Homo sapiens: one gene and its partner. The protein of the gene in region 2 interacts with the protein of the main gene of each other region in a pairwise test. Each region holds a gene or a part of one and is shown on either strand. Other genes may lie near its edges.

Region 1 (4,149 bases), on a different chromosome or scaffold from region 2:
CCCTGCTTCTACAGGGCTGAAGTCCTCCCTCCAGGATGGGTTCACAAGGGCCTGAGACCCTCCCTTCCCAGGCCACAGAGGCCCACGAGGCCCTGCTGACATCGAGGAAGCTCGGTGCCCCAACCTTCAGGTAGAGCAGTAGAAAGGTTCAGAAACCACTCTGCCTGCACCGATGGGGTCCTCTGCACATGGCACCCCCAGAGAGCTCCACTTCCAGGAACAGGGAAGAGCAGGGCACGCCCTCCAGCCTGGGCGGATCCTGGCTCAGACGGCCTAGGTCTGACCCTAGCCCTGCTGAGTCACTTAACGCCCCCGTGCCTCAGTTTCTCCACTGGCAGGTGGGGTTAATCCCTGTCAAGTGTGTGTAACGTGGAGCACCGAAGAAACCACGCGTTCCTAGCCCAGTGCTGGCGCCCACCGGGGAGCAAACAAAAGGGAAACCACTGTGCCTGGCGGCTGGGGTAGGTCCTGCCGGCTCCTCGGGCTGGACGATCTCACTGTCCCCGTCCTGGGGCCTCATCTCCCCTTAACAAAAGACCCCAGGCTCAGGGCGCAGGGCGGCGGCCCAGCTCCTCCTCTCTCTTCGCCGGCTTGGACTCCGCCGTGACGGCGCCCACCCCTGCCTGTTTCTGCAGACCCTCTCCACCTTCCCGCAGCCCCGGCTGCTCCACGCCCCCTCCTACCAGCTGCGAGACACCAGCCCACGAGGGCGCGGGGCGCGCGGCCCGGCCGGAGATGGAGTCTGAGAACGGGCCCAACCTCAAAGGCACAGGGGGCGGCGCGGGGGCTGGCGTCTGGCCCTCACAGTGTCACGCGTGAGGTCGGGACGGAGCGTCCGCGCCTGCCTAGCCCCTGCCCTCCGGCCCTCACCTTCCGGAAGCCGGATCCAGCTCCTGCTCCCTCCATGACCGCAGCCTCAACGCGCGCCCACCGGAACCCCGCCCCGCGCCTCCAGCCAATGAGACCGGAGCGCGCCCCCGGAGCCCCGCCCCGCGCCCCTAGCCAATGAGTCCGAAGCGCCTGCTCTCGGAGCCCCGCCCCCACGTCTCAGCCAATGAGCCCGGAGCGCGCCCTCCAGCAGCCCCTCCCTCACGTCCCGCAGCCAATGAACTTGGAACGCGCCCTCCCGGGGCACCACCCTCACGACCCTCAGCCAATGAGCCCGGAGCATGCCCTCCCGGGGCCCCACCCTCATGCCCCTAGCCAATGAACCTGGAGCGCGCTGCCCCCTCTCAGCTTGCGGCCCGAAAGGCGCGCCAGTTCCTTTGTTCTCATTGGCCCGCACCAAGCGCTGCCTGCGCAGAGCCTGCTAGGAGTTGTAGTTCCCGCGGCCTCTCCCGGCGCGCCTTGTTCTTCCTGGATACTGAGGCCCCGACGCGGCTGTCGCGAGGGCGGGGGTCGGGGCTGCAGGCGGGGCAGGGCTGGGTGGGGGCGCGCGACGCACCTGCCTGCTTCCTGCACGGGTGGTCCCCAAGCACTGCGGGGCCCCAGCCCAAAGCGGACCTTGACTACCGCCCAGCCCCGCGCTCCCAGGACCTCCCGCCCGCGGAGCCCACTCGGATTGCTCTCCGCCCGGGTCGGCGGAGGCCCCGTCTCCTGTACCCGGCGCTGGGACTGCTCCGCACCGCGCGGCTCCCTTTCAGCAGCTGCGGGAGCATGCGGAGGAGGCCCTGCCGGCCCCGCGGGTCATGGAGGAGTTCCGGCGCTCCTACAGCCGCCTGTGCAGGGAGAGTGGGGCCGAGCCCCAGGAGGCTGTCCTGCAGCAGCTGCACCAGCTTCCCAGGGGCCGGCTGGACCTGGCCACGCAAAGCCTGACGGTGGAGACCTGCAGGGCCCTGGGCAAGCTGCTGCCGAGGGAGACGCTGTGCACGGAGCTGGTCCTGAGTGACTGCATGCTCAGCGAGGAAGGTGGGCAGGCGCGGCGGGGTGGATCCCTCTGCTCCTTAGCTGCCCACACCATTGCCTCGGCAGCCCGAGGTCGCTTCCTCTCCAGGCTCTCCAATTTCTGTGCCGTAGTTAAAGCGAGCAGGGGCGCCCCTTCCTGCACCTGGGAGTAGAGGGCAGTTCCTCTGTATGACGGGGGAGAGGCCTTAACATTCGCGGTCTTACCTGGTTCCCCGCGTGCAGAGCCGGCTTGGTGCCTGGCAGGGGCTGCAGGTGTTTCAAACATGACTTCGCAGCGAGACTCTTGGCCAGCGCCAACCCAGACCATCGGGACAGTTGTCCCTTCCTGGGTCTAGGGAGCTGCCCTGAAAAGGGGCCCACGGGGAGGGCCTTGGGGTCAGCAGGGGCAGAGAGTGACCGCCGGCCCCCCTTACACAGGGGCCACACTGCTGCTCCGAGGCCTGTGTGCCAACACCGTGCTGCGCTTTCTGGACTTAAAGGTGAGATACCTGCACTCTTGAGTGTCCGAGTGTGCCACCCAAGGGCAAGAGGAGAGGTGGAAGATGCCAGGTCTCGGGGGCCTGGGGTCTGGGCAGGTGGCTGGAAGCTGTCTGTGAGTCCCCAGGCCGCTCTCTGATGGCCTCCTGTGTGTGACCATCTCCAGAGCAAGAGTTCACATTGGCAAACAAGCCGGCCCTTGGAAGCCCCCTGAAGACAGGGAGCCCAGGAGCTGAGGAAGGCTGCAGGGTGCACCCCAGGCTTGTCCCCTGGCTGACCAAGGCCCTTGGGGCATGGGCGGGAATTCAGAGCCAGTCAGGGCACGCGAGTGACTACCGGCCTGTTTCTCTCCTAGGGCAACAACCTTCGGGCTGCAGGGGCCGAGGCTCTGGGAAAACTCCTCCAACAGAACAAGTCCATTCAGAGGTGGGTGGTGGTCCCGACCCCAGGCCCTGTCTCTGTGTGGTTGAGGATTGGCCCCGAGCACATGCTTCTGCAGCCCAAGAGTTCCCCATTGCCAGGTGCCCATGTTTCACATACGTTGGCAGGGGTAGGCAGAGGCTCCGGCCCATCAGACCCCAAGCCCACACCCGTCCCCAAGCCCTGGACCCCACGGGCTAGGCAGTCCCCTAGGTGAACACTGGCTTCTGCCCCTCCTGCAGCCTCACGCTGGAGTGGAACAGCCTGGGCACGTGGGACGATGCCTTCGCCACCTTCTGCGGGGGCCTGGCGGCCAACGGCGCCCTGCAGCGGCTGGACCTCCGCAACAACCAGATCAGTCACAAGGGCGCGGAGGAGCTGGCCCTAGCCCTGAAGGGCAACACCACCCTCCAGCAGCTGGGTGAGGCCTCCCAGGCGCCCTCAGGCTCCCTCATCCCTCTGAGGCTGCCTCTGCTCTGGGAAGTGAGGGGCTAGGGGACTGGCCTGTGCTCCTGCTCTGTTGATGACTGCAAGGCAGTGCCCCCTAGGGAAGCACCCCGGCCAGGCCAGCTCCCCCTCTGCCAGGTGCATTCTGTCTGGTGACTACAGGTTTCCTTCCAGACCTGCGCTGGAATAACGTTGGCCTCCTGGGGGGCCGGGCCCTCATGAACTGTCTCCCCAGCAACAGAACCCTGTGGAGACTGGACCTGGCTGGGAACAACATCCCTGGAGACGTCCTCAGAGCCGTGGGTACGGTGCAGGGCTGTGTGGAGTGACGCGTGAGCCTTTGACAGAGGCCTGTCCACCGAGGGCGGGGTGCCGGGCTCAGGACGGGAACTGATGAGGAGAGCAGCCTGAGAGCCCAGGGGAAGCAGGAAGGAGCGGAGGGGTCGTGGGGCACCTGTTTGGCACTTGAATGGCGTTCGCCACACATGGGCACTGTCCGAGGCGCCCTGTGTACTTGCTGAGTTCTTAGGACCTGTGCAGTGGAGGGTGCCCGTTTCACAGCTGGGGAAGCTGAGGCCGTGTGGCTCACAGTCCTGGCCTTGGTGGCTTTGCTGATGCTTCGGGTGGCCCAGGTCTTGGCCTTGGCCAGGAAGGCTCCCTGGTCACCCTGAGTCTGTGGCCCTGCATGTGAGTCAGGTGAGGTGGGGCCCCCTGGCTTGTGCTGGCCTCCACACATTCCCTCCCACCAGCGACCCCGAATCCTTGCAGCTGATGTCTCAGCCTCAGGCCCCAGTGCCCCAGACTCAGCTGGGGACTTTGCCAGGCCCCCCGTACTCCCTAATCCGCGCACAGCGGCAGCCTCTTCCAGCCCCTGTGCTGAGGGCTCATCCCTCCTGCTGG
Region 2 (3,500 bases):
CCAGCACTTTGGGAGGCCGAGGTGGGTGGATCACGAGGTCAGGAGATCGAGACCATCCTGGCTAACCTGGTGAAACCTCGTCTCTACTAAAAATACAAAAAATTAGCCAGGCATGGTGGCGGACGCCTGTAGTCCCAGCTATACTCGGGAGGCTGAGGCAGGAGAATGGTATGAACCTGGGAGACGGAGCTTGCAGTGAGCCGAGATCGCGCCACTGCACTCCAGCCTGGGTGACGAAGCAAGACTCTGTCTCAAAAAAAGTCTGACTGAATAGAGGTAGACAAGGCTACATGAGAAGGACACACTTGAGTAGGGTTTTGAAGGTTGAATAGGAGTTTGCTAGGTGGCTCAAAGAGTAGGTAGAACTCTGCAGGACAAGGGAACAGCCCATGCAAAGGTTGTGAAGCAGGCAAGGGCTTGGCATGAACAGTCTTCTGGGCCAGGTTGGGCAGGGCCCTGAAGCTGGGCAGTGAAGCTCATGCCCTCTCTCCACCATCAGGCTGGACCGCTTTGAGAAGACCAATGAGATGCTGCTCAACTTCAACAACCTGTCCAGTGCCCGCCTGCAGCAGATGAGCGAACGCTTCCTGCACCACACGAGGACCCTAGTAGAGATGAAACGGGACCTGGACAGCATCTTCCGCCGTATCAGGTGGGTGCTCAGTGCCACCCCAGCCCAGCTGACCTCTGCCTCCACCTCCCCATCTGAGCCTCAGTTTCCTTCACATACCAGGGTAAAGGGAGATTTCTGTTTGTTTTACAAGGCTTCACTGCGCACTTAAGTGTCTGGGACAATTCCAACCCTGGGATAAAATCTTGACGTAAGTTTATTTACTGATTGATTAATTGATCGAGACAGAGTTTTTTTTTTTTTTTTGGAGACGGAGTCTCGCTCTGTTGCCCAGGCTGGAGTGCAGTGGCGCGACCTCAGCTCACTGCAAGCTCCGCTTCCCGGGCTCACGCCATTCTCCTGCCTCAGTCTCCGGAGTAGCTGGGATTACAGGTGCCTACCACCACGCCTGGAGAATTTTTTGTATTTTTAGTGGAGATGGGGTTTCACCGTGTTAGTAGTCAGGATGGTCTCGATCTCCTGACCTCGTGATCCAGCCGCCTTGGCCTCCCAAAGTGCTGGGATTACAGGCGTGAGCCACTGCGCCCGGCCGAGACAGAGTCTTGATCTGTGGCCCTGGCTGGAGTGCAGTGGCGTGATCTTGGCTCACTGCAACCTCTGCCTCCTGGATTCAAGCGATTCTTGTGCTTCAGCCTTCTGAGTAGCTGGGTCTACAGACATACTGTACCACACCCAGCTAATTTTTGTTGTTGTTGTTTTATTTTTGAGGTGGAGTCTTGCTCTGTCGCCCAGGCTGGAGTGCAGTGGTGCAATGTCAGCTCACTGCAACCTCCGCCTCCCAGGTTCAAGCGATTCTCCTGCTTCAGCCTCCTGAGTAGCTGGGACTACAGGCGCATGCTGCCACGCCCAGCTGATTTTTTGTATTTTAGTAGAGACGAGATTTCACCGTGTTGCCCAGGCTAGTCTCAAACTCCTGAGCTCCAGCACTCTGCCTGCCTCGGCCTCCTAAAGTGTTGGGATTACAGGTGTGAGCCTAATTTTTGTATTTTGTGTAATTTTTGTATTTTTTTAGTAGAGACAGGGTTTCCCCATGTTGGCCAGGCTCATCTCGAAGTCCTGGCCTCAGATGATCCATCCACCTCGACCTCCCAAAGTGCTGGGATTATAGGCATGAGCCATCATGCCCAGCCTTGCAGTTTATTTATTCTTAAAAAATGTAACACAGTGCGGCTGGGCGAGGTGGCCCATGCCTGTAATCCCAGCACTTTGGGAGGCCGAGGCAGGCGGATCACGAGGTCAGGAGATCAAGACCATCCCGGCTAACATGGTGAAACCCCGTCTCTACTAAAAATACAAAAAATACTAAAAATACAAAAAATTAGCTGGGCGTGGTGGTGGGCGTCTGTATTGCCAGCTACTCGGGAGGCTGAGGCAGGAGAATGGCATGAACCCAGGAGGTGAGCCGAGATCGCGCCACTGCACTCAAGCCTGGGCGACAGAGCGAGACTCCGTCTCAAAAAAAAAAAAAAAGTAACATAGTGCTAGACACATAATGAAAAGGCAGGAATGGCTGGGCACAGTGGCTCATGCCTGTAATCCCAGCAGTTAGGGAGGCTGACGCAGGCAGATCACCTGAGGTCAGAAGTTTGAGACCAGCCTGGCCAACATGATGAAATCCCGTCTCTACTAAAAATACAAAAAAATCAGCTGAGCATGGTGGCACGTGCCTGTAATCCCAGCTACTTGGGAGGCTGAGGGAGGACAATCATGTGAATCCGGAAGGTGGAGGTTGCAGTGAGCCAGGATGGCACCACTGCACTCCACCCTGGGCGACAGAGTGAGATTCTGTCTCAAAAAAAAAAAAAAAATTTATCAGAGAAGAGGCCACATGTAAGAAGCAGCCTCGCAGGGGGAGCCCCCAGCCAGTGCCTAGGCTCAGAGCACCCAGAGTCTAACTAGTTGGGGGTTGGTGCCTACCTTGGGGCTGGAGGCCGGCTGGTGGGCGACTGTCAGGGCCGTGGCTGCTGGGCCGAGCACCTAGAGAGAGTGAAGATGTGAGGTGATGAACAGTGTGGGGGTTCTCACTCCCGTCTCCCCTTGCCCTCAGCTGGCAGCAGGGGCTTGTGGCCAGCACCAGGCCCAGCCTACCTGCTCAGCAGGTTAAGCCCTGTGTGCCTTCTCTCCCCTGCAGGACGCTGAAAGGGAAACTGGCCAGGCAGCACCCAGAGGCCTTCAGCCGTAAGTGTCACGCAGGGTTCCTGCTCCCGAGCACGTCAGCACTCTCCACCCAGGGCAGGCTTCTGGAAGGCCACCTTGGGGCCTGATACTGAGACCAGGCTGTAATGGGCAGTGGGTCTGGGGAAACCTGGGGTGGGGGCAGGGTCAGGGTGCTGGCCTGGTCCTGTCAGCAGCTGGCAGAGTGGGCACTAGGACGGGAGTCCGTGCCCCGTGGGGAGGCCGCACAGGAGAATGTGGATAAGCAGCATGACAATCCTTATCCCTGTGTGCATTATGAGCCATCTCAGAACAGAGCACGGGCTCATGTGACACCAGCCCCGACATCGTCTCGCCTTCCCTGAGCCCCAGCTTCGAGGATCTGTCCCATGTCCAGCTGTTACCCACAGTCACCCATGGGGTGGGGACTGTGAGTATCACCGTTTCATGGAGAGGGAAACAGAGGCCCAGAGGGGCAGGACTTGAGTTCGCATCTGTCTGGCTAGAGAGCTCGCGTGTTCTCTGGGGTACCATTCCATGTTGCCACCACCTTAAAGGGCTCTGCAGGCTGAGCCTGGGTTCACACCATCTGTTGAAAAGGCCGACAGCTCTCCATCCCAGGGCCTCCAACAGCAGTTTACAGAGCAGGGAGCTGGGCTGAGGGGAGGTCATATACCTAGCCCAGGTAGTGCAGTGAGCCAGGTTCGCCCTCAGG

What was found. The genes of interacting proteins can lie anywhere in the genome.
Region 1: the proteins of KXD1 (region 2) and LRRC45 interact in binary tests that used the Homo sapiens proteins (3 or more experiments, as listed by UniProt).

What each region holds. Positions count from the first base shown.
Region 1 is NC_000017.11:82,021,956-82,026,104, forward strand, and holds the start of LRRC45 (leucine-rich repeat-containing protein 45), read left to right. Parts: upstream 1-1,349; 5' UTR 1,350-1,688; coding exon 1,689-1,908; intron 1,909-2,322; coding exon 2,323-2,384; intron 2,385-2,737; coding exon 2,738-2,808; intron 2,809-3,044; coding exon 3,045-3,223; intron 3,224-3,423; coding exon 3,424-3,552; intron 3,553-4,149. Other genes in the region: CENPX (centromere protein X), read right to left, coding at 871-906. UniProt on the Homo sapiens protein: Component of the proteinaceous fiber-like linker between two centrioles, required for centrosome cohesion.
Region 2 is NC_000019.10:18,564,370-18,567,869, forward strand, and holds part of KXD1 (kxDL motif-containing protein 1), read left to right. Parts: intron 1-499; coding exon 500-652; intron 653-764; coding exon of another isoform or gene 765-825; exon of another isoform or gene 826-840; intron 841-2,762; coding exon 2,763-2,809; intron 2,810-3,500.